Linked DNA regions of Homo sapiens: all the other regions are linked to region 3. The links come from fine-mapping of genetic effects on gene expression. A gene starts in region 3. Each other region holds a variant in brackets. All regions are shown on one strand. Distances are from middle to middle.

Evidence for each region. PIP is the estimated chance that this variant, and not a neighbour inherited with it, causes the effect.
Region 1: its variant is the best candidate, but not a certain one, in a credible set for the expression of MERTK in left ventricle (GTEx, PIP 0.77).
Region 2: its variant is the best candidate, but not a certain one, in a credible set for the expression of MERTK in whole blood (INTERVAL, PIP 0.63).
Region 4: its variant is the best candidate, but not a certain one, in a credible set for the expression of MERTK in monocytes (Fairfax 2014, PIP 0.83).
Region 5: its variant is the best candidate, but not a certain one, in a credible set for the expression of MERTK in fibroblasts (GTEx, PIP 0.86).

What each region holds. Positions count from the first base shown.
Region 1 is chr2:111,919,745-111,923,862 of GRCh38, forward strand. All of the region lies in intron 1 of MERTK (MER proto-oncogene, tyrosine kinase), which reads left to right. Among named protein-coding and RNA genes, the nearest start is that of MERTK, 23 kb to the left of the region's middle. The variant T/G (reference allele first, on the strand shown) is at 1,984.
Region 2 is chr2:112,058,458-112,062,575 of GRCh38, forward strand. It overlaps TMEM87B (transmembrane protein 87B), which reads left to right. Exons shown (of 19, transcript NM_032824.3): 2 at 1,520-1,580. Among named protein-coding and RNA genes, the nearest start is that of TMEM87B, 5.2 kb to the left of the region's middle. RefSeq lists a silencer at 2,117-2,331. The variant C/A (reference allele first, on the strand shown) is at 1,695.
Region 3 is chr2:111,896,437-111,900,554 of GRCh38, forward strand. It overlaps MERTK (MER proto-oncogene, tyrosine kinase), which reads left to right and starts at 2,171. Exons shown (of 19, transcript NM_006343.3): 1 at 2,171-2,360. The coding sequence starts at 2,300. RefSeq lists an enhancer at 1,310-1,639.
Region 4 is chr2:111,958,289-111,962,406 of GRCh38, forward strand. All of the region lies in intron 4 of MERTK (MER proto-oncogene, tyrosine kinase), which reads left to right. Among named protein-coding and RNA genes, the nearest start is that of MERTK, 62 kb to the left of the region's middle. The variant CA/C (reference allele first, on the strand shown) is at 2,192.
Region 5 is chr2:112,030,178-112,034,295 of GRCh38, forward strand. No RefSeq gene overlaps it. Among named protein-coding and RNA genes, the nearest start is that of TMEM87B, 23 kb to the right of the region's middle. The variant A/G (reference allele first, on the strand shown) is at 1,627.

The DNA.
Region 1 (4,118 bases), 23 kb after region 3:
AGCAGAGAGGTACCTCTGCTCATTTTGTTTTTTGATGTTTTTTCTTTTTCTTTTCTTTTTTTTTTTTTTTTTGAGCCAAAAGGAATGTATTGGGCCAGGGGCAGTAGGAAGGTCACCCCACTGATAAGCAAGCCCCTTGTGCTTTTGCTCAGATGTCTCAGCCCCTTCATGCTGCAAGCCTTGGTTCAGAGAGGTTGGATAGCTTTCCTGGTGTGCCAGGTCCCTGTTTGCCCCTCCAGACCCACTCTCCATGCTGCTCTAAGCCCCAAGAAGCAGCCTGTGGGAAGGGCAACAATGAAATCCCTAGTGCTGTGGCTCCAGCTGGTTTTGACTAAATGATACTAAGTTATATTTGTTCCTCTAAGTAAATCCGGGGTGTTCCCATATTGGTTGCTTATCTGAAATTCAGGTGTAAAGGGCTGTACTGTTTTTTATCTGGCAACCCAATGCCAACACCGTGTTTTACAGGCAACTTCACGTTCCTTCCACCGTGCAGGCATTTCTGGGCTTTCACTGGCACTTGGGCTTTTCTCCTCCTGTGGCTGGGCTGTGACCTCTTGGGGCACACACTGCCCAGCCATTTACTTCCTTTCCTTCCTGCAAGCGCCAGGCCTGTTCTCTCCAGCACTGACTCAGAGCCAGCCACCCGCTTTCTCTTGCAGGGCTTTGCTACACTTAGGGCAAATGGGTGGCGTGATCGCCTCTTCCTCCTTTAACATTCTCCAAGTGGCCCAAGGGTCACTCCAGTGAAGTTAATAATTACCATTTGCAATTTAGGACTGATCCATCAGGTCAAGTGAGTTCTGATTGAAGGTTGTTTTTTTTTTTTCTTTTTCTTCTAATGAAGTGTTGCTACTCTGTTTGTTTGTTTTTCTTCTAATGAAGTGTTGCTACTCTTTATTTTATTTATTTATTTATTTATTTTCCGAAACAGAGTCTCACTGTGTTGCCTACGCTGGAGTGCAGTGGCGTGATCTCAGCTCACTGCAACTTCTGCCTCCCGGGTTCAAGCAATTCTCCCTGCCTCACCCTCCCGAGTAGCTGGGATTACAGGCGCCTGCCACCAGGCCTGGCTACTTTTTGTATTTTTTAGTAGAGACAGGGTTTTGCCATGTTGGCCAGGCTGGTCTTGAACTCCTGACCTCAGGTGATCTGCCCGCCTCGGCCTCCCAAAGTGCTGGGATTACAGGCGTGAGCCACTGCGACTGGCCACTACACTTTATCAATCAGGAATCCTTTGGGTATTGCATAAATAGTACTAAGTAGAAAATTTCCTTTTGTGCTATGTTTGGCCTCAGCTAGCTGTGGGGGTAAAGGGAGTGGGGTGGGAGTCCTTAACCTGGGTGACAGGGCAGCTGCTCAGGACATGATTCAAATATCAGCCTGGTGTGTGCACACAGAATGTGGGGTGGGGGCACTGGTCTAGGTTCTGCGTTTTCTCCTAGAGAGGGTAGGGAAACAGGGATACCAGCATTTACAGGATTCCAGATGCAAAAGCCTTTCTCTGAACTTTGGGAGGTGAAGGCGGGCAGATCACCTGAGGTTAGGAGTTCGACACCAGCCTGACCAACATGGTGAAACTCGGTCTTTACTAAAAATACAAAAATTAGCTGGGCATGGTGGTACCTGCCTGTAGTCCCTGCTACTCAGGAGGCTGAGGCAGGAGAATTGCTTGAACCCTGGAGGCGAGGTTTGCAGTGAGCTGAGATCACACCACTGCACTCCAGCCTGGGCTGTGACAGACTAAGACGCGATCTCAAAAAAAAAAAAAAAGCCTTTCTCTAAATCACAAACCCACCTGCAGAAGGGCTGTAGGGCTGTTTGATAGCAAATACCTTCAGCAGACAGCAAGACTGGTGAGGAAACAGCATACCTCTGGAATAAGGTGCATCCTCTTGGCCATGCATTTATGTGCCATATGTTCATGTGTGCTTGAGTTGGGAAGCAAAGAACCTCTAGGAACTGAAAGATAAGCCCTCACTC[T/G]TTTGCAGCCTCCTCTGGGCCTCGTTTTTCTTTTATTTCTATTTTTGGTAGAGACTTGTCTCACTCTGTTGCCCAGGCTGATCTTGAACTCCTGGGCTCAAGCAATCCTCCCGCTTCGGCCTCCCAAAGTGCTGGGAGCCACCACGCCTAGCCTGGGCCTCTTGAGTTTGAGGCTGAACTTTAGAGAGCTCAGCTGATGCTTCTGCCCATTTTATTGTTGGGGAAGGAATAGAAAGAGCAGGAGTAATGGGTCCCACAGGCTGGCACTCACTCCTGCCATTACTGTAACTCTGGTAGAGGAGCTATTCCTCTCTCTTCCCAGGTGCCTGGGATCATAAAGCAGGCTGATGGCACACAGCATCCTGGGGTAGCTGGGGTGGGGTGGAACTGAACAGGGTTCACCAGCCAGCACCCTCAGTCCCACAGGGCTGCCACCTGCCCTGCTCAACCCTCTTCCCACAGCATGGAGGGACTCCAGGGCCAGGGAGGCTGCTTGCTGCCACATCCCCACCCACTATCATGGGACCTGCAATTTCAGTTGCTGCTGCTTTCTTTAGTCACCTCGGTGATCACCTTGGGCTGTGATCACCAAGCTTCAAGAAAATCAAAGGAGCTCATGTTAGGAAAGGCTGGTGGAGACCATCCCTGGAGAGATTGAGAGATGCCTTAGAGCTAAGAGCCCTTCGCATCCCAAGCCCGATGTATATTTTTTCCTCTCACTCATGGCTGGCAATTATATTACTCTAGTATTGCCCTTCCCCATGCATTGTCCAAGGCAGACATCACTAATTAAACTCAGCCCTTATCCCCGCAGGGCCCAGACCTGGCTTTAGAAATTCCTACTTTAGGTGGCCAGCAGGCCAGGGTTCAGATGCAAGCCAGTAACAGCCATGTCAGCCAATATTTTTGGAGTGTGCTGGTGGACTCGATGCCTATCAGCTCCTACTGCTGAGATCCTCTTGTCCTCACAAGAGTTCAAAGAAGTTATAGAGCTTTCCTGAGGCCATACCTTGAGGTGGTGAGGGACTGGGTGGGCCTCAGCCCTCTGACTGCAAAGCTGCTAGCTAACCTCTGAGCAGCACTGCCCACCAGCCCTTCTGCCTTTGCACACTGCATTTGACAAGTGCTCAGCAAGGATTCATGGATTTGAGGGTAGGATGCACTAGTTGATCACATGGAAAATAACATTCTTTACTGGCTTGCCCTAATGAACGAATTTTGAGTCTAAGAGACTATTCACAAAGTCCCTAAATGTCTGAGCCACTGTAATTGTGTGTCATAGGCATGCTGACAGCCTCTCCAAGTTCTGTCTCCAGCCACAGCAGTGTCCTTGCCTGGACCACCTCTCTTCCCTGCTCACCCTTCAGGACCTCTGCACGTCACACCCGTTTATTCTGTAAATGTTTGCTGCATGTGACTCCATGCCAATCATCATGATGGGTTCAGATGATGCCACCTCCAGCCTTCAAGGAAGTTACAGACAAGTATGTTCAGAAAAACAGGGCAAACTCACACAGAAAAATGGGCAGTATGTGAATAAACATTCACTAATCAGGTCCCTTGGGCCTGTCCTGTACTGGGTGCTGAAGAAAGATGATGGAGACAAAAGCCCTGACTTTAAGAAGCGGACGCTAGGGCTCTGGTCAAGGGCTGCATGGTGATTGGAAACACATGGGCACAGTGCAGGGGTGCTGCACCACACAAGTCCAGGACTGGATGGAGTGGCCCCTGGAGTTGGTAAATGCAGCTGCTGGAGCAGCTGGGCGGCTACTCTGGGACCTGAGTGGGAGGCTAGTGATCCAAGGCAGCTTAGCAGCACTCGTTTATGTGAAGTTAAAATTCCACTCCAGCTGTTTATCCAGTCCACATGAGGAAGCAATCCTGGAAGAAGGTGGGAGGGATAAGGTGGAGATTTCTTGTGAATTCCACCCAAATTACAACCAGAGGCACCCCACTTTTCCATGTGCTGTGTAGAAAGGACCACATTTGCATTAAGTCTTTGATGTGGGTAAGCCTTTCAGTCTGAATTCATCTGCAATCACTACCCAAAAATAATTTTGAGAGTATTCCACTTCTGTGGGGGAAAAACAGGGGGAAAAGATACGTTATACAACCAAAGTAATAGAAACAATGAA
Region 2 (4,118 bases), 160 kb after region 3:
ACTCTGCATACATTCTAGCAGAGTGGGCACAGAATTGCCACAGCTCGTTTTTTTAAGTGAGACTGGAATCCATCTTTTTATTATGTCAACTAAAGTTTTAAAAAGGCCTCTTGTGGGCCCAGTATATCCCATTTTTAGGTTGGATTAGACCTCCAGACTCCCAGTAGCTACTTTAGGATGTGAATGAGGGAGCCATTGAAAGATCTTAGACATAATGCTAATCACTATGGCTGCTGTCTAAAGATGAATTATAGGATCAGATCTGGAGGTAGAAGTACCAGTTAAGCTATTGCAGAAATTAGGCAGGAAATGCAGAGGGCCTAAATTAGGGCAGTGGTGACAGAGATGGAGAGGAAGAACTAAATTTGATAAATGTTTGTGAGATAAAGTAGGCATGCCTTGGGGATTGGGTGATGGAAGTGGGGAACTGGAAGGAGCCATGGCTTGGGTGACTGTAGATGGTACCACCTCCAGCCAAGGTGGACAATGTAGGAAAAGTTGGTGAGCAGAGAGGAGTGTGTCTGGTTTAAAACAGGTTTGTCTGTTGGACATCTGTCAGTGGACATGTCCTTTAGGCAGTTGGGTATTTGGATCTGGAGCTCAAAGGAAGGATCCAAGTTGGGAATTTTATTGTTGTTGTTGAAACTCTGTTGGGGAAGGGAAGAGGTTACCACTTGTCCTATCAGTGTTTTTTGTTTTGTTTTGTTTTGTTTTTAATGCCTAATCATTTGTACATTTAACACAGTCTCTAACTGCAGGATTTTTATTCCTGAGAAGACATTAAACAACTAATCAATTATTTGATTTAAATTGTGGAAAGGTTGTGAAGAAGAAAGGGTGCTAGGGATTATATAAGGGAGGGCCTGGCCGGATATGGGCCACAGTGGAAGAATTCCTGCAGAACGGGCTTTTGAGCTGGGCTTTGAAGGGTGAGAAGGAGCCAACTAGATGAACAAAGGGTGAAAGGAAGGATTTTAAAGTAAATTTTTCAGGTTGACCACTAATCCTGAGGGCAGGAAAGAATATCATGCTTTTCTGGAACTGGAAAGTTGAGAGGTGGGCAGGACTTGATTATTCACGTCCTATAGGCTACAGTAAGAATTTCGGTCTGTTGTAATTGCATTGGTAAACCATAACGACTTGGAGCTGGGAGAGGGGGACAGTTCCTTATCAAAAGTACATTCAAATTGACGCCAGGAGAGCAACATGCAAATGCAGTCAGTTCATGTCACGTCTGAGCAGCACTAATCCTGCAATGGCAGCATCTTTTACCTCTTATGTGTCACTGGCCCTAACTGAGTCTGCTAGAGGCCAGAGCCCTCCTGATCCTCAGGGTAACTGCAGGAAGTAGAACCATGACAAGGTTTTAAGCAAGTTAGTGATGTGATCAGATTTACGTTAAAAAAATACTCTTGTCAGAGAGAGGAGTGCAAGGCTTAGAACTCTATATGTTGTGGGGTAAAACAGTTGCAAAAAAAACTTTCTAACAAGATCTTCCTGTGTTTGTTTTTCATTTTAGAAATCAGGACCTTTGATATTTAGGAAAACTATGTTTAACTCTACAGATATCAAGTTATCTGGTAAGTATAATAAAACAATAAAATACTAGACTGGGCGCAATGGCTCACGCCTGTAATCCCGGCACTTTGGGAGGCCGAGGCAGGTGGATCACAAGGTCGGGAGTTCAGGACGAG[C/A]CTGGCCAACATAGTGAAACCCCGTCTCTACTAAAAATACAAAAAAAGTTAGCTGGGCATGGTGGTGGGCACCTGTAGTCCCAGCTACTTGGGAGGCTGAGGCAGGAGAATCACTTGAACCCGGGAGGCAGAGCTTGCAGTGAGCCGAGATCGCGCCACTGCACTCCAGCCTGGGCGACACAGTGAGACTCTGTCTCAAAAACAAACAAACAAGAATAATGAAATACTAATATATATATAAACAACATAATATAAACAAATACATTCATGTAAATGAATATAACATATATAATAAACTAAGCAAATGTTTTGTTTTTAAGTAGTTCTAACATTTTAAGGTTTTGTTTTGTTTCAGTCAGCACTTGGTTATTTACAAGAATGGATTTTTCTTTTTTTTTTTCTTGAGACAGAGTCTTTCTCTGTCACCCAGGCTGGAGTGCAGTGGCAAGATCTCGGATGACTGCAACCTCCGCCTCTCAGGTTCAAGTGATTCTCCTGCCTCAGCCTCCCTAGTAGCTGAGATTACAGGCGAACGCCACCACGCCCAGCTAATTTTTGTATTTTTAGTAAAGATGGGGTTTCACCATGTTGGCCAGGCTGGCCTCCAACTCTTGACCCCAGGTGATCCACCCACCTCAGCCTCCCAAAGTGCTGGGATTACAGGCATGAGCCACTGTGCATGGCCCACAAGAATGGATTTTTCTGATCTTCTTTCAGAAAATGTAATGTGAATCATTTTATGAAAATTATAATTAAAGTCTAATAGACGAACAAAAAAAATTTGTTTTTTGTGAAATTTAACTTTGAGTCTCAGATTTTTAAAACTAGATAAATTGCTTTTACGAATATATGAAATGTCATGATTGTGATAAACCCTTTATGGCCTTGAAAATTTTCAAAACGTACATATCCTCGTAAGAAGTAAAAATTGCTGGACAACATTTTAATTAGAGTTTTAAGGTTGATAAAAGTTAAAATATTCATTAGGTAGGGCCTGTCTTTTCTGTGTCAATACTGAGATACCAGAACTACCAAGGTTTTTTAAGAATTTCACTGGATTTTCATTGGATCGTATTCATTGTGGCCCAATTCCTCTTATTGTTTCCAGTAACCTAACTAGGAAAATTGGTTGCCAGAGTTAAAGTCTCAGGATAAGGAGCAGTTTTTTGCTGGGTAGAGCAAACTGGCTTCTACAGGATCCAAAGTCATGCCTCTTTCCTTTCACACAACAGATCATGCTCTGCTCATTTGTTGGGGGCAATTCTTCCTTTTATGGGTCTTTCCTGAGGGAAGTCAGGCTAGCCAGCAGCTAGAAAGCAGAGGTGGTTTCAAGCAGCTCTGTAATATCAATCATCAGTTGTGATAAGAGCTTGGTAAGAGGAAATTGAAGTCCAAGGTGAGAGAGAAAAAAATTTTGGCATCTGTTTATTTAATGAATTCATGTCTCAAAGTCTAGACAAAGGATTTAAAAGAATCTCAGTCTGGTGCTGACAAAAAGTTATATGGAAAAAAAAGTAACGTCAGCCACTGAAACAGAATTTGATTTTTAAAAATCATTACAAATGCCTGAGATCAACATATGAGTAGACTACAATCAAGACGTTGTTATTAACTTATCTAAAGAAAGAATGGGACAGCATGAGGGATTTAAGAGCAAAAGCATAATAAAACTAGGGTTTAGTCAGGCAAATGCTGGTCATGTCCAACAGCATTGTTGGGGGAGAGGTTTTCTTGAACCATGACCACAGCTATGACATGGGGCTGGCAGTTGTGGATATAGCATCCACCTGAGCCTCCTTGGTCTGGTGCCATGCTCACCAAACCACCTTCTCATCCGTATTGGGCCTCCAGGGAGGCATGCTGAAGGGAAAGAGTTGATCATTACTAGTCCAGTTTACGGTTTCTGTTCATTGTAAGTGAGTAATTGAGTATTCTAATTTATACATCTACATGGTAATCATGAAAGTGAGTAATTGAGCATTCTAATGTACACATCTACCATTGGGAAAGGGTGAGATGAGAATCTGTGTTTTCACAGAGCCAGATTTTAGTGCTTGTTAAGCTAAGGACTGGTCCCTTGGATATATGTCGATGCTGTTTGGGAGATCAGATATCTGGCTTTTTTAAGGCAACCTCTCTTCTGCTGTCTCATTCAAGTCATGTGGAGCCTGTGCTAAAAAATATCTCAATGTAATTCACCATATTAACAGAATATAAGAAATGAACCATATGATCATCTCAAAGTATACAGAAAGAGCATTTGAAAAAAATTCAACACCCATTCATGATAGAAACTCAAAGAAAGTTAGAAATAGAAGGAAACTTCCTCAACCTGATAAAAGGCATCTATGAAAAATCTGTAGCAAACATCATACTGTCAGTTCTTCCCAGATTGATCTATAAGTTCAGTTTAATCCCAGCCAA
Region 3 (4,118 bases):
TTTCGATAACGATTATTTGCAAAAAGAAGCCATAGGCCTGCAGGTTATAATTTACTTTACATGATTCTAATCCCCAACCATTTGAGCCTAAGGTCCCAGGCAGATATGGAGGAGCAAGGACAACCTATTTCCCCTGTGCTCTGTCCAAACCTCCGATCCACAGAATTCAGGAATCTAATAAAATGGCTGACATTTTACTCCCACTATGTTTGGGGTGGTATATCAAACACCGGTAGATAGCTGAAGAGTATTGTACAAGGCAGGCCTCAACAAGAAAGTGAGATTTGAGCTGACTTGGAGGAGAGCCAACTGGGAAGCTGTGTGTCTAGGGGAAGAGCATTTCAGGCAGAGAGAACAGCCAGTGCAAACCTTTGGGCGGAGGAGTGCTTGGTATATGTGAGCAATAGCAAGGAAATTGCAGGAGAACAGCTCTGCCGAGGTGTCCTTGGCAATCTTGCACATCTCTCGAGGCCATGTAGGCAAGGTATGACCACGGTCTGACCCAAGTCTTGTTGGACTGCCCTGTGATTTCCCCTAAAGCAGGGATGGGTAAGCCTGGTGAGGAGCCACTGGTAGGCAGTTTCCTATCCCTACCCCATGGGAGACTGCTGCAAGGCCATTTCTCTTCCTTCTCCAACGTTTCAGTTGACTGCAGGACTTTCCATATCCCTCCCTCCACCGCCCAGCCCGCTTCCCTCCAAGCATACAGCGGCAGGCTCCTGTGAAGTCTATAAAACTGCTTGGTGTAATTTAGACTTGGCTACTCAGCGGCAGGGCTCATGTTGTCTTATTTATTTATTTATTTATTTATTTATTTTTGTTAAATTATGTAGACCCATAGGATAACACTGACCCTTCCAGTTTGGTGTTATCTTGTAGGCCTAAGGATGCATGGAGCTGACACCACACTGATTTTGCTTTTGCTGTCGGTGTAAGTAATAACCTGTCTAAACCCATCTGGGCTGCCTGTCTCCTTCCCGTAGCCAAATCTACGGGAAGTGTCCAGCCAGTGTAGGGGTCAAGGGACCGCTTGACGAGACCAACGTAAATTGAAGAGGCGTAAGGAGATGAGGCCAAAGAGGAAAGGGGACCAGGTCACGTAGAACCTCGTAGACCACTGCAGAACCTTGGCTTACGTACGCAGAGACAGCAGGAACCACTGATAGGTTTAGGGAGATTTGAGGAGAGGGACATGATTTGGCTTATGTTATGTTGTTAAAGGGACCACATTAAAATACATTCATTCTAAAAGTGTTACCTTTAAGAAACTACGTATATAAATTAAGTTACTGTTGCCATTATTAGCGTAAGTAGTTACATTTCTCTTACGACTCACTCTCTGCTACTGCCTCTTGGACCCTGCACACCTTGTGGAGGCCCATGAGAGTGACGTGCTGTGGTTCCCCCTCTCCCCACTCCTGCTCTGCACTTTGTCATTCACGTTCATCTCCCTCCTTGAGTGTCACCTCTCTCTGGCTCGTCACGGAGCCACGGCAAAGCGTCCTTTCCCAGGAACCCCTCCCCCTGGGGAGGTGAGCTCCTCGCCGCCAGGGCCGTGTCGCGCACCTCGGGCCGGGTACCCAGGCGGCGCTCGGCGGCGAGCGGAATGGATGTGGAGGAGCGCTCGGCAGGGAGCGCTGCCGCCCTGGCCTTGGCCTCTGGGAGCGGCGCGGCCAGGGTTTTCTGTGTCAGCCAAGCCCGGAATGCGGGGGCGCCTCTGGACCCTCCTCTTGGGTCTGGGGGCTGCCTCGGGCATCCTCTACTCCTCTCCCACCTTCTGTCCTTCCCCATCTCCCACCCACACGTGTGGGGCCCCGGACCCGCGCAGCGGCCAGAGCCTTCCGCTGTGGACCTCCAGTCCACCCCTCCCCTTCACTTCTCTTTCCGGCTCCCTCCGGGTCTCTCAGCCCCCTCCCCTTCCTCTCCGCCCCCTTCCCCGCCGTCTGCCCAGCGGCGGCCTTCGGCCCGCCCCTTCTCTCCAACCCCCTCCCTTTCCCCTTTACGCCCCTCCTCCCCCTCGTCCTCCCGCCCCCTCCCACCCCAACCTGCTGGGCCCGCCGGGACTCGCCCCCCTGCCCGCTCCTCTCCTCCAGCCCCGGCCGGCCTCGGCTCGGCCCCCGGCCCGCCCCTTCCAGCCCTCGGCACCTCCCGCCGGCCGCTTGGCTCCGCCACTCGGCACTCACTGCCCGGGCCGCCCGGACAGGGAGCTTCGCTGGCGCGCTTGGCCGGCGACAGGACAGGTTCGGGACGTCCATCTGTCCATCCGTCCGGAGAGAAATTACAGATCCGCAGCCCCGGGATGGGGCCGGCCCCGCTGCCGCTGCTGCTGGGCCTCTTCCTCCCCGCGCTCTGGCGTAGAGGTGAGTGCGCCCGGCTGGGGGCCAGGCGAGGGGGTGGGGGCTCCCAGGAGGAAGCAGGGGCCTCTGGGGAGGGAGCGCGTCCACAGGGGCGCGCCTGGCTGCTGGACAAGTTTGCAAACACCCTCCACCCACTGCGGTGCCAGAGGAGGGGGCGTAGGCGAACCTACCGTCCACTGACCGCGGCGCCTCAAGCGTCCCGAGGGCACCCAGCCTGGCTTGCGGGTGCGCATCGTGGTGAAGCCGGGTCGGGGTCGGCGTTGCAGGCTCCCCTCTTCACCGCAGAGGAGGAAATCGAGCTCGGCCGGGCGCGCTGCAAGTCCTGAAGTTCCGACGAGTGGAACGTAGGTAGCAGGTCTGGTCTGGGATGCGACGAGAACTTTCCACTAGAGTTGCATGGTGGGGCCCCGCTCTGGCCGGAGTCCCGGGGGCCACAGATCCGGTCTCCCGAGGGACCGGCGCGGGGCGAACGAACGGGCTGCGGGAGTCGGAGCCGCAGTCCGGGAGCCGCGATAGACTGAGGCCGAGCGACGGGCCAGGGGGGGACGGCAGTCCTGGCTGCTCCCAATGGGCCCTTACGGGCATTATTAGTATCCCTTTTTAGGGGCACCCAGAGAGTGTGGGAAAAGGGGAGCGTTCTTTTCACTCCTGTTATGGCAGAACAGAACTTACAGTGCTCGGCAGCGTTTACGTTTATCTGGATTCAGCGAAGTGTTGTTACAGGCTTTTTTTTTTTTAATTTGAGACCGAGTCTCGCCCTGTCGCCCAGGCTGGAGTGCCGCGGCGCGATCTCGGCTCACTGCAGGCTCCGCCTCCCGGGTTCAAGCGATTCTCCTGCCTCAGCCTCCCGAGTAGCTGAGACTATAGACGCGCGCTACCACGTCCGGCTAATTTTTGTATTTTTAGTAGAGACGGGGTTTCACCATGTTGGCCAGGATGGTCTCGATCTCTTGACCTCGTGATCTGCTCTCCTTGGCCTCCCAAAGTTCTGGGATTACAGTCGTGAGCCACCGCGCCCGGCTTGTTCCAGGCATTTTAATACAAGATGCTGGACTGATACGTGGAGGCAAGGAAGGCCGGTTTCATTCTGCTTGAACAGCTTATTTGGGGAGTGAGTGATGAACAGATTTCAAGTTTGATCGCTGATGCACTTCTTGAGGAGGCTGGAATAAACTTACCAGGCTTTACCCAAAAGAAAAAGAAAGGGGAAAAATGCTAAATAAACACATTCCAAGTATTTTCTCTCAGCTAAAAGGTTTCTATTTCCATTCAGCATGTAGATTTTCTCTCTTTTGATCGAGAATGCACTTGACTAGCCTTCACCTATTACAGTCAAAGATGTTTTTTAGGAATACCTGGAAAGCTCAGTTTATAGTCAAGTAAGTTACTTAAAAGTTTTTCCTTTGAGATTTTCCTTTGAAAGCTCATTTACTCAAATGAAAAATTCTTAAACAGTGCACCCACTTTTTGCACGTTAAATTACATAAGCAATTTATAATTTGGGGCAACATAGCAATTTGAAACAAACTTTAAGAGCCAGGCAAAGAACTAAAGCAGTTCTGTTCTCCACTGCCCCTCCCTCCACCAAACCTTCAAAAATTCCTCAGCATTTCTGCCAGCCCCATTTTTCATAATCTGCTGCAAATCTGTTATTTGTTGCTACTAGTGAGGACTGGCCGTGAATAGTCTTGGAGGTAGTGAATGTGGTGAGAACTATGGAGAAAGTAATGGGAACAATAGTTTTGTGTTAAATACTTAAAA
Region 4 (4,118 bases), 62 kb after region 3:
AGTTACTGTTCATCCACACAGAGAGAACTGGCGAGTGAGAGGGAGCTGTCTTCTCCTAGTGTACACTCATTGCTATGGTCAATCCAGGCTTATAAACGAGTGTCTAGTTGGGAAGCCAGTGCCATTAAGCCATTAAAGTTTAGCTGAAAAATTAAGCAAAGAAGACTATATTTGGCCCTAAGTGCTGTCTGGTTTTGGAGAAATTTACCTTTGGTTTGAACTAGTTTCCTCTTCTCTCTACTGGTATCTCTTTGGCCTATGGGCACCAACCACCTGACCTTGTACACTGTTTTAATACATTGTGTGGTTACTGCCAGGCAATTCAGACTTGGTGTAGGTGTCTTGTGCTAGGACATTTGCTATAGATTGTTTTTTTGACCTTGGGTGCACTATGAAAAGAAACACACAGGAGAAATGACTGTCCATTTGACCTGAAGTCATGTTCTGTGATAATGTTTCCCTTTCAGCATTAATAAACCTGTTAGGACTAAAGATCACTGGGCCTGAAATCTGCTACTATAGGATCCTACTATAGGTTCTATAACTGGATAATGGATCTCAGTGAAATAAACCTCCGGTTTTACCACAGGGCTGGCTCTTCCCCTTATGACAAGTTTGGAATGTAATTTTGTAGTTTGTATTCAAGGGTTTCCTAAGAGTTTTGATAATAATTGAAGTCAAATGACTAATTTTAAACTGCCAATGTCTCCTCCAATATATAAAAAAGGTAAGTTAGTAACTCCCTGTATCTTCTGATTGAGCCAAGGCCAATTTTTCTAAATATAAGCCAGGTTTTGCAAGTTCATGCAGCCTGGTGGTTGAAATGGGCATATCACTTGGGAGCTTAGGATCTGGAAGGTTAAAAGTGATGCCAAGGCATGAAAATCAAAGTGTTAAAGGCCTCACTGTGAAACAGTGATCAGCAGAGCATGGACCCCTTAGTGGGATCAGTGTCTCCATCCTCATCCTATATGTATCTTCTTTCTTAAAATCAATGCTTGACAACGTGCCCAAAGTCCAGTTACTTCGCCAGTTCTCCCTTTCCACCTCCCTATTTTCCTTTCATCTCTTCCTTGCATTACAAAAGAAAAAAGACCTCTCTTGCTTGTCTGGAATCACCACTATGAAGCATCAGTTCTCAATGCTTTGGTCTCAAGATCCTTCGTTTGTTTGTTTGTTTGTTTCTTTTTGGTTTTTTGTTTGTTTGTTTTTGTGTGTGTGTGACAGAGCCTGACTCTGTCGCCCAGCCTGGAGTGCTCACTGTAGCCTCAACCTCCTAGGCTCAGGTGATTCAGCCATCTCAACCTGCCAAGTAGCTGGGAATACAGGTGCATGTCACCATGCTCAGCTAATTTTTGTGTTTTTTGTAGAGATGGGGTTTCACCATGTTGCCCCAGGGTGGGGCAACTTCTGGACTTGAACTCTCGAACTTCTGGACTCAAGCAATCCTCCTGCCTCAGCCTCCTGTAGTGCTGGGATTACAGGAGTGAGCCCACTGTGCTTGGCCTCAAGATCCTTTTACAGTCATAAGTTATCAAGAACCAGAGTTCTTGTTTATGTGGGTCATATCTATCTATATTTACTGAATTAGAAATTAAAACTGAAAACTTTTAAAACACAAAAATACACAAGCATACACTTCATTGGCTAATACATCTATGCTATGGCATCATCATATATCATATAGCCTCTGGGAAATTCTTTTGGAAAATTCCATCATATATTCCTGAGATAATGAGAATTAAAAGAGCAAACAATATATTATTATTATGAAAATAGTTTTGACTCTGAGGACTACAGAAGGGGTCTCTGGAATCCCCAGAAGTCTCTTGACCATATTTTGAGAATGGTTGCTGTGGTGCATTGTCTTGGGGTTAAGAAATTTCCAGAGACAGAAAATTCCAAATTTTGGCTGGACGTGGTGGCTCACGCCTGTAATCCCAGCACTTTGGGAGGCTGAGGCAGGTGGATCACCTGAGGTCAGGAGTTCAAGACCAGCCTGGCCAACATGGTAAAACCCTGTCTCCATTAAAAATACAAAAATTAACCGGGCGTGGTGGTGCATGCCTGTAATCCCAGCTACTTGGGAGACTGAGGCAGGAGAATCGCTTGAACCTGGGAGGCGGAGGTTGCAGTGAGCCAAGATCATGCCATTGCCCTCCAGCCTGAGTGACAGAGCGAGTCTCAGTCT[CA/C]AAAAAAAAAAAAAAAAAAAAGAAAAGAAAATTCCAAATTTTGTCCAGCAAAGAAATTGCTCTTCCAATAAAGTTGTACTTATGTTTAAGAATCACTTACATTGTTTTGATTAATTGCATCCTAATAATGAGTATAATCAATTCAGAAGAAAATATTTTTGCAATTTCAAGGTATATATATGTTTTTGTTGCCAATAAGTTCCCATGGTTTAAGCAAAAACTTTCAAATGTGTACCATTAAGATGAAATTCTTGGGGCTGGTAGAAGAGTCATGGTGGAAAACTTGCTGCTGGGGAAGAGTCGTTACAGTGGGTGTTGGTGTCAAGATATTCAAGGTACCTCAAATTACATTTTTTGAAGATGTTTAAATTACGAAAAATTTAAGGATGCAAACTTCAAAATGTGTCAGAGTCCACGTATATTTTTCAAAATTCTCTAGGAGTAATACAAGCAGAAGATATAAAGACCCCGAGGCAGAGTATCACAGGGATCCTTTTATAGATGTGTGTGTAATGGGTGTGAGAGAAATATTCCTCCTCAGTGCAATAAATATTTTCTAATTCACTACACAAACTAGTAGCAGTTTCATGCCTCACTTGAGAAGAAGTGACCAAAATATGAAAGTAGATGGCTTCTACCAGGAGTTTTTGTTTCTTAGCACTTTAAATTTTCTTTCTTTTTTTTTTTTTTTTTTTTTTTGAGATGGAGTCTTGCTCTGTCGCCCAGGCTGGAGTGCAGTGGTGTGATCTCGGCTCACTGCAAGCTCCGCCTCCCAGGTTCAGCCATTCTCCTGCCTCAGCTTCCCGAGTAGCTGGGACTACAGGCGCCCGCCACAACGCCCGGCTAATTTTTTTGTATTTTTAGTAGAGACAGCGTTTCACAGTGTTATCCAGGATGGCCTCAATCTCCTGACCTCCGCCCGCCTCAGCCTCCCAAAGTGCTGGGATTACAGGCATGAGCCACCGCACCCGGCCGGCGTTTTAAATTTTCAAGAGAATTTAATTAAGCAATCCAGCTTAGGGTTTCCTCCCATCTGAGGGAAGTATTCCTCGTCTTTGAAAATTAAGATACTGTGAAGTAGCAGTCAAATCCTCTCCATAATACCATGTTATTTTTGAAGAAATGAAAGGTTACCACCGAATCATAGGACAGAGATGTATGGGTTTGCTTTTCCCTGAGGGACCCGTGTGTAGTCAGGGAAACGCAGACACTGGTGACAACCTTCCATCTAGATGGAAAATAACAAAAACCCACCAGCACTGATTTTCTTTTTTATGCACATTTAACCCCTCAGGAGAAGCACTAATATAAAAAGGATCAGACATGCATTTTTTCTACAGCGTCTCTCAGTCACAGCTCTCTGCCATGTAGTGACCACTTGGCTGCAGCCGGGGCGCAGTCGTGGCCATGCAGACATCCGACCAGGAACAGCTTTTCTAGGCTGATGCCTGCTGTGCTTCCCTCAGCAAGTTTTTTTCCCTTTCATTCTTCAAATATTTTATTACTGTTATTAGTGATAAGCTTTGAGTTTAAAAATATCTGATGGAAAATTTCCTACACATGTAGACAGAAGACACAAAATAAGCTTTTCTGCCAAGAAGCAAATGGTGGCATATTTTCAACAATTTTATGAAGATACTACTGTATGTCAGATGATGTTTCTGTGTGCCACAGATATAGAAGTTTCCAGATTCAACTACATAGTAAATACTTGTATAGTTGTAATTCTAAAAAATAACCATTCAGGTCGGGTGTGGTGGCTCACACCTGTAATCCTAGCGTTTTAGGAGGCCAAGGCAGGTGGATCACCTGAGGTCGGGAGTTCAGGACCAGCCTGGACAACATGGTGATACCCCGTCTCTACTAAAAATACAGAATTAGCCGGGCATGGTGGCAGGTGCCTGTAATCCCAACTACTTGGAAGGC
Region 5 (4,118 bases), 130 kb after region 3:
CCAGATCTCACAAGAACTCACTCGGTATCACGAGAACAGCACCAAGGGGCAGATACCAAATCATTCATGAGAAATCCACCCCCATGATCCAATCACCTCCCTCCAGACCCCACCTTCAACGCTGGAGATTACAACTGAACAAGAAGTTTGGGTGGGGACACAGATCAAAACCATATTAGAAATCTACTCCAGAGCTTCTCAACATTTTTACTTTATTTAATAAACATATATCTCTTACTCTGTGCCAGGCATGGCACTCATTTAATTTTCATAACGACACTACCAGATAGGTACTACTATTATCTCCACTTCACAGATGGGCAGACTGAGGCAGGAAGAGCCTAACTTATGCTGCTAGTAAGGGCAGCAGAATTATGCAGTCAGTTGAATTGTTGATTTCCCAGCCTTCGGGGCAGCTGAGCAGGCCCAGAGCCACTGGCATCTTCAGGCCTGTTTACTCCCCACCAGTAAGCAGCCTCGCCTAGGCCTCTCCCACAGTCTTCAAGAATCAGAATCTACATGGGGTCCAACAGTGTGGCTCTCACCCAGGTTCTGGTCCCAGCTGCCCACCCAGGCACCCAATCTCCAGGGTGAGCCGGCTCCTCTGTTACTGTGAAATGCTCCATATGAAAAAGTTCTGGCCAGATGTGGGGATTCACAACTGTAATCCCAACACTTCAGGAGGCAAGGCAGGAGGATCACTTGAGCTCAGGAGTTCAAGACCAGCCTGGACGACATAGTGAGACCCTATATCTACAAGAAAAAATTAGCCAGAAATGGTGGTGTGTGCCTGTAGTCCTAGCTACTCTGGAGGCTGAGGCAGGAGGATCACTTGAGCCCAGGAGTTTGAGGTTACAATGAGCTGTGATTGTGCCACTGCACTCTAGCCTGGGTGACAGAGGGAGACTGTGTCTCTAAAAATTAAAAAAAAAAGTTCTGAGGGTTTGAAAAGAATCTGTAAAATGCCACCATTACATTTTATTCGTGAAAGAAAAAAAGCTGTAGCTCCTATAAAGATAACTTACACTGTTGAAAATTTTTGGTCATTAAAAAATAAAAAAATTTATCACCTACTTGTATAAACAGTTTCTTATCGATGGTAAGTAGCAGGAAGTTGAAGAACTGATCATTAAAGTCTTGATCAGAACCTGATGGTGACTAGTTCAAACAAAAAAAACCCACCCCAAAATAGAAAGGTATGCTCATATCTATGAGCAAAATAAGTAATTATAAACATTGAAAAATGTTATTTGGAAGTTTAATATAAACTTAATATTAAATATCTATGCTCATATACAGTACTTTGTATTTTATATTTCTAATTTTAACAGCATAATGTAAAAAATGTACAATGAATAGTTCATCAAACACCCCACAGCCCTCTAAATCCTGTCCAGTATCTTCTGTGTGGTCTGAGCAGGGCTGGGGAGCCCGGGCCAGTTCTGCCGCAGGAGAGTGTAGAAAGCTGAGCCAGCTGTGGCTTCTGGCTTTTCTTGAGACATCAAGAAACGTAGCAGAGAAATTCACTTCAGCACACAGCGTGATGCACCCAAGTGTTGGTTAAAAGTGGTGTGATGAATGAGAATGAAGCTGGGCTACCATTGTTCTTCACATTTAAATCTCCGC[A/G]CTGAGAATGTTGGTGTTCTTCTTAGCCACATCTGAATATTTGAAAATTTGGAAAGAACTAACTTTCAGATGATCCAGTCATTGGCAAACTCTCATACTGTCTTCTGAGCATAAACTGAAAACAGCGTTTCAAATTCTCTTTCATAGAAACTCAAATTACTTTTGTAAGTGGCTCTTGTAGGCAAAAAAAAGGGAGAGAGGAAACAGGAAGAAACAAGTCGGGTTAATTGTCTTAACCGTGCTGGGGCTCAGGATCAGGAGGTCGAAAGGACAAGGAAACAGACATATGCCAGAAGCACTCGTGACTGGCACGTTGAGACTTGCCCTCCCTTGTGAGGATTTTCTTTCTTTTGTGTTGTTTTTTTTTTCCTTTCTGTTGCTTTTCTTAATGAGTAGAAATGAGAATCAAGCGTCAGGGCAACTCTTGGAAAACAAAAAAAAAAAGACACCAAAGCACTCTTCATGGTGAGCCAGGCCATATGGTCAGAGGTGGGCTGGATAGGAGCTCACCCTGCCAGATGTCCTTGGGCAATCGTGGGCAGGTCACTTGACTTTCCTTGAGCCCCAGTTTTCTCAAGTGTTCAGTAAACATACCAATGCCTTTTTCTGCAACACCCTGTGTAAGAAGGGGAGGAGGCAAGGTCTTCGAAAGAATATTATACTCACAAGAGGCTGTTCTCAATTTGTGGCATCATTCCTTATGCAGTGCAAACCCAGCAACATTTGTCATATTCAAAATATTTTCAGCCAGGCGTGGTGGCTCACGCCTGTAATCCCAACACTTTTGATGGCCGAGGAGAGAGGATTGCTTGAACCTAGTAGTTCAAGACCAGCCTGGGCAACATAGGGAGACCCTGTCTCTATAAAAAATAAAAAAGAAATTAGCCAGGGATGGTGGCATGCAATTGTGGTCCCAGCTGCTCAGGAAGCTGAGGTGGGAGGATCACTTGAGCCTCAAAGCTCAAGGCTGCACTGGGCTGTAATCACACCATGGCACTCTAGATGGGGCAACAGAGCAAGACTCCATCTCAAAAAAAAAAAGAAAAAGAAACATTTTCCCTGATTGTTTCATCAACTCCCTCCAAAATAAACACAGTCATTCATAATTTGAAAAGAGAAAGAGATAGTATTTCGCCTTAGCCAGAAACGCACAGTTGGGGAAGTTCAGAGTGAAGGAGGAGGCCCTCAGTCCTCACCTCAAACAGCCACTGGGCTCAGGAGCTGGAACTACCTTCCTCTTGTCTATCCTGGGGTTTAGCTACTGATGATACAAGCCTCATTGCGCCTCTCCCCAATATGTGGGTTATGACAAGCAATGGTGGCTTGCTTTACCAGGAGCATTTGGGGACATGTGGTGGGTCAGAATGCTATCCCAGGAAGGGGATATTCCCTCTCTGCCTCCATGTCTGCCAGACCTAGCAGAGGTTCCCCACCTGGGAAATGGGCCAAACCACAGTCTCTTCTTTTACAGAGCAGGCTGATTCTAGCCAGACCAGTTCTGATTCATGAAAGTCAAGACTTTTGTAACTTTTCCTGGTCAATGGCAAAAGCAAGTTGGAACTTCTGCTGAGTCCGTGGGAAAGTAACTGACCCAATAATAAACTAGCTACAACAGCAACTTAACTTCTCTAAAGATGTTTAGTAACTGAGTGACAAATGAGAAAATGGGAAGTTTTGTTTTCTTTAATAAATGTTTCAATGATGCACAATGTTCCTATCCTTAGATTTTATTTTCTTTCTTTTAAAGCTCTAAGTGAGAATAGCAGCAAAACTCCCATTCTATTTAACTTTAAAAGGCATATATAATTACTTAATTTTTTGTTATTTAAATGCAATAATTCTGGGCATGGTGGCTCATGCCTGTAATATCAGCACTTTGGAAGGCAGAGGTGGGAGGATTGCTTGAGCCCAGGAGTTCAAGACCAGTCTGGGCAACATGGTGCAATCCCATCTCTACAAAAAACACAAAAATTAGCTGGGCATGGTGCCACATGCCTGCAGTCTCAGCAACTTCAGAGGCTGAGGTGGGAGGATCACTTGAGCCACAGAGGTCGAGGCAGCAGTGAGTCATAATCATGCCACTGCACTTCAGCCTGGGCAACAGAGACCCTGTCTCAAAATAAATAAATGTAATAATTACTTCTAGAAACTGTAACCTGTGGACCACTATTTTAGAATATTTTTACATACAATCTCTCTTATTTAAATGGGATTCCATGGATAGATATATGAAAGAGAAACCAGAGAATTATATCTATTAACTCTTTCTATTCCTTAAGGACATGATAACTGTTAATTAATAGATTTATTGAGACTATACACTTAAACATTCTAATGAAGAAAGTGTTTTCGAACAACAATCATATGAGGTCACCTATAACCCACTCATCCATTTGCAAATATTCACTGAGAGGAAGGCCCTGTTCTGGGCATTGGGATCTTGCAAAGAAAGGCAGTCTAGGCCTTATCACTTCTTGGCCTTTTGGCTAAGA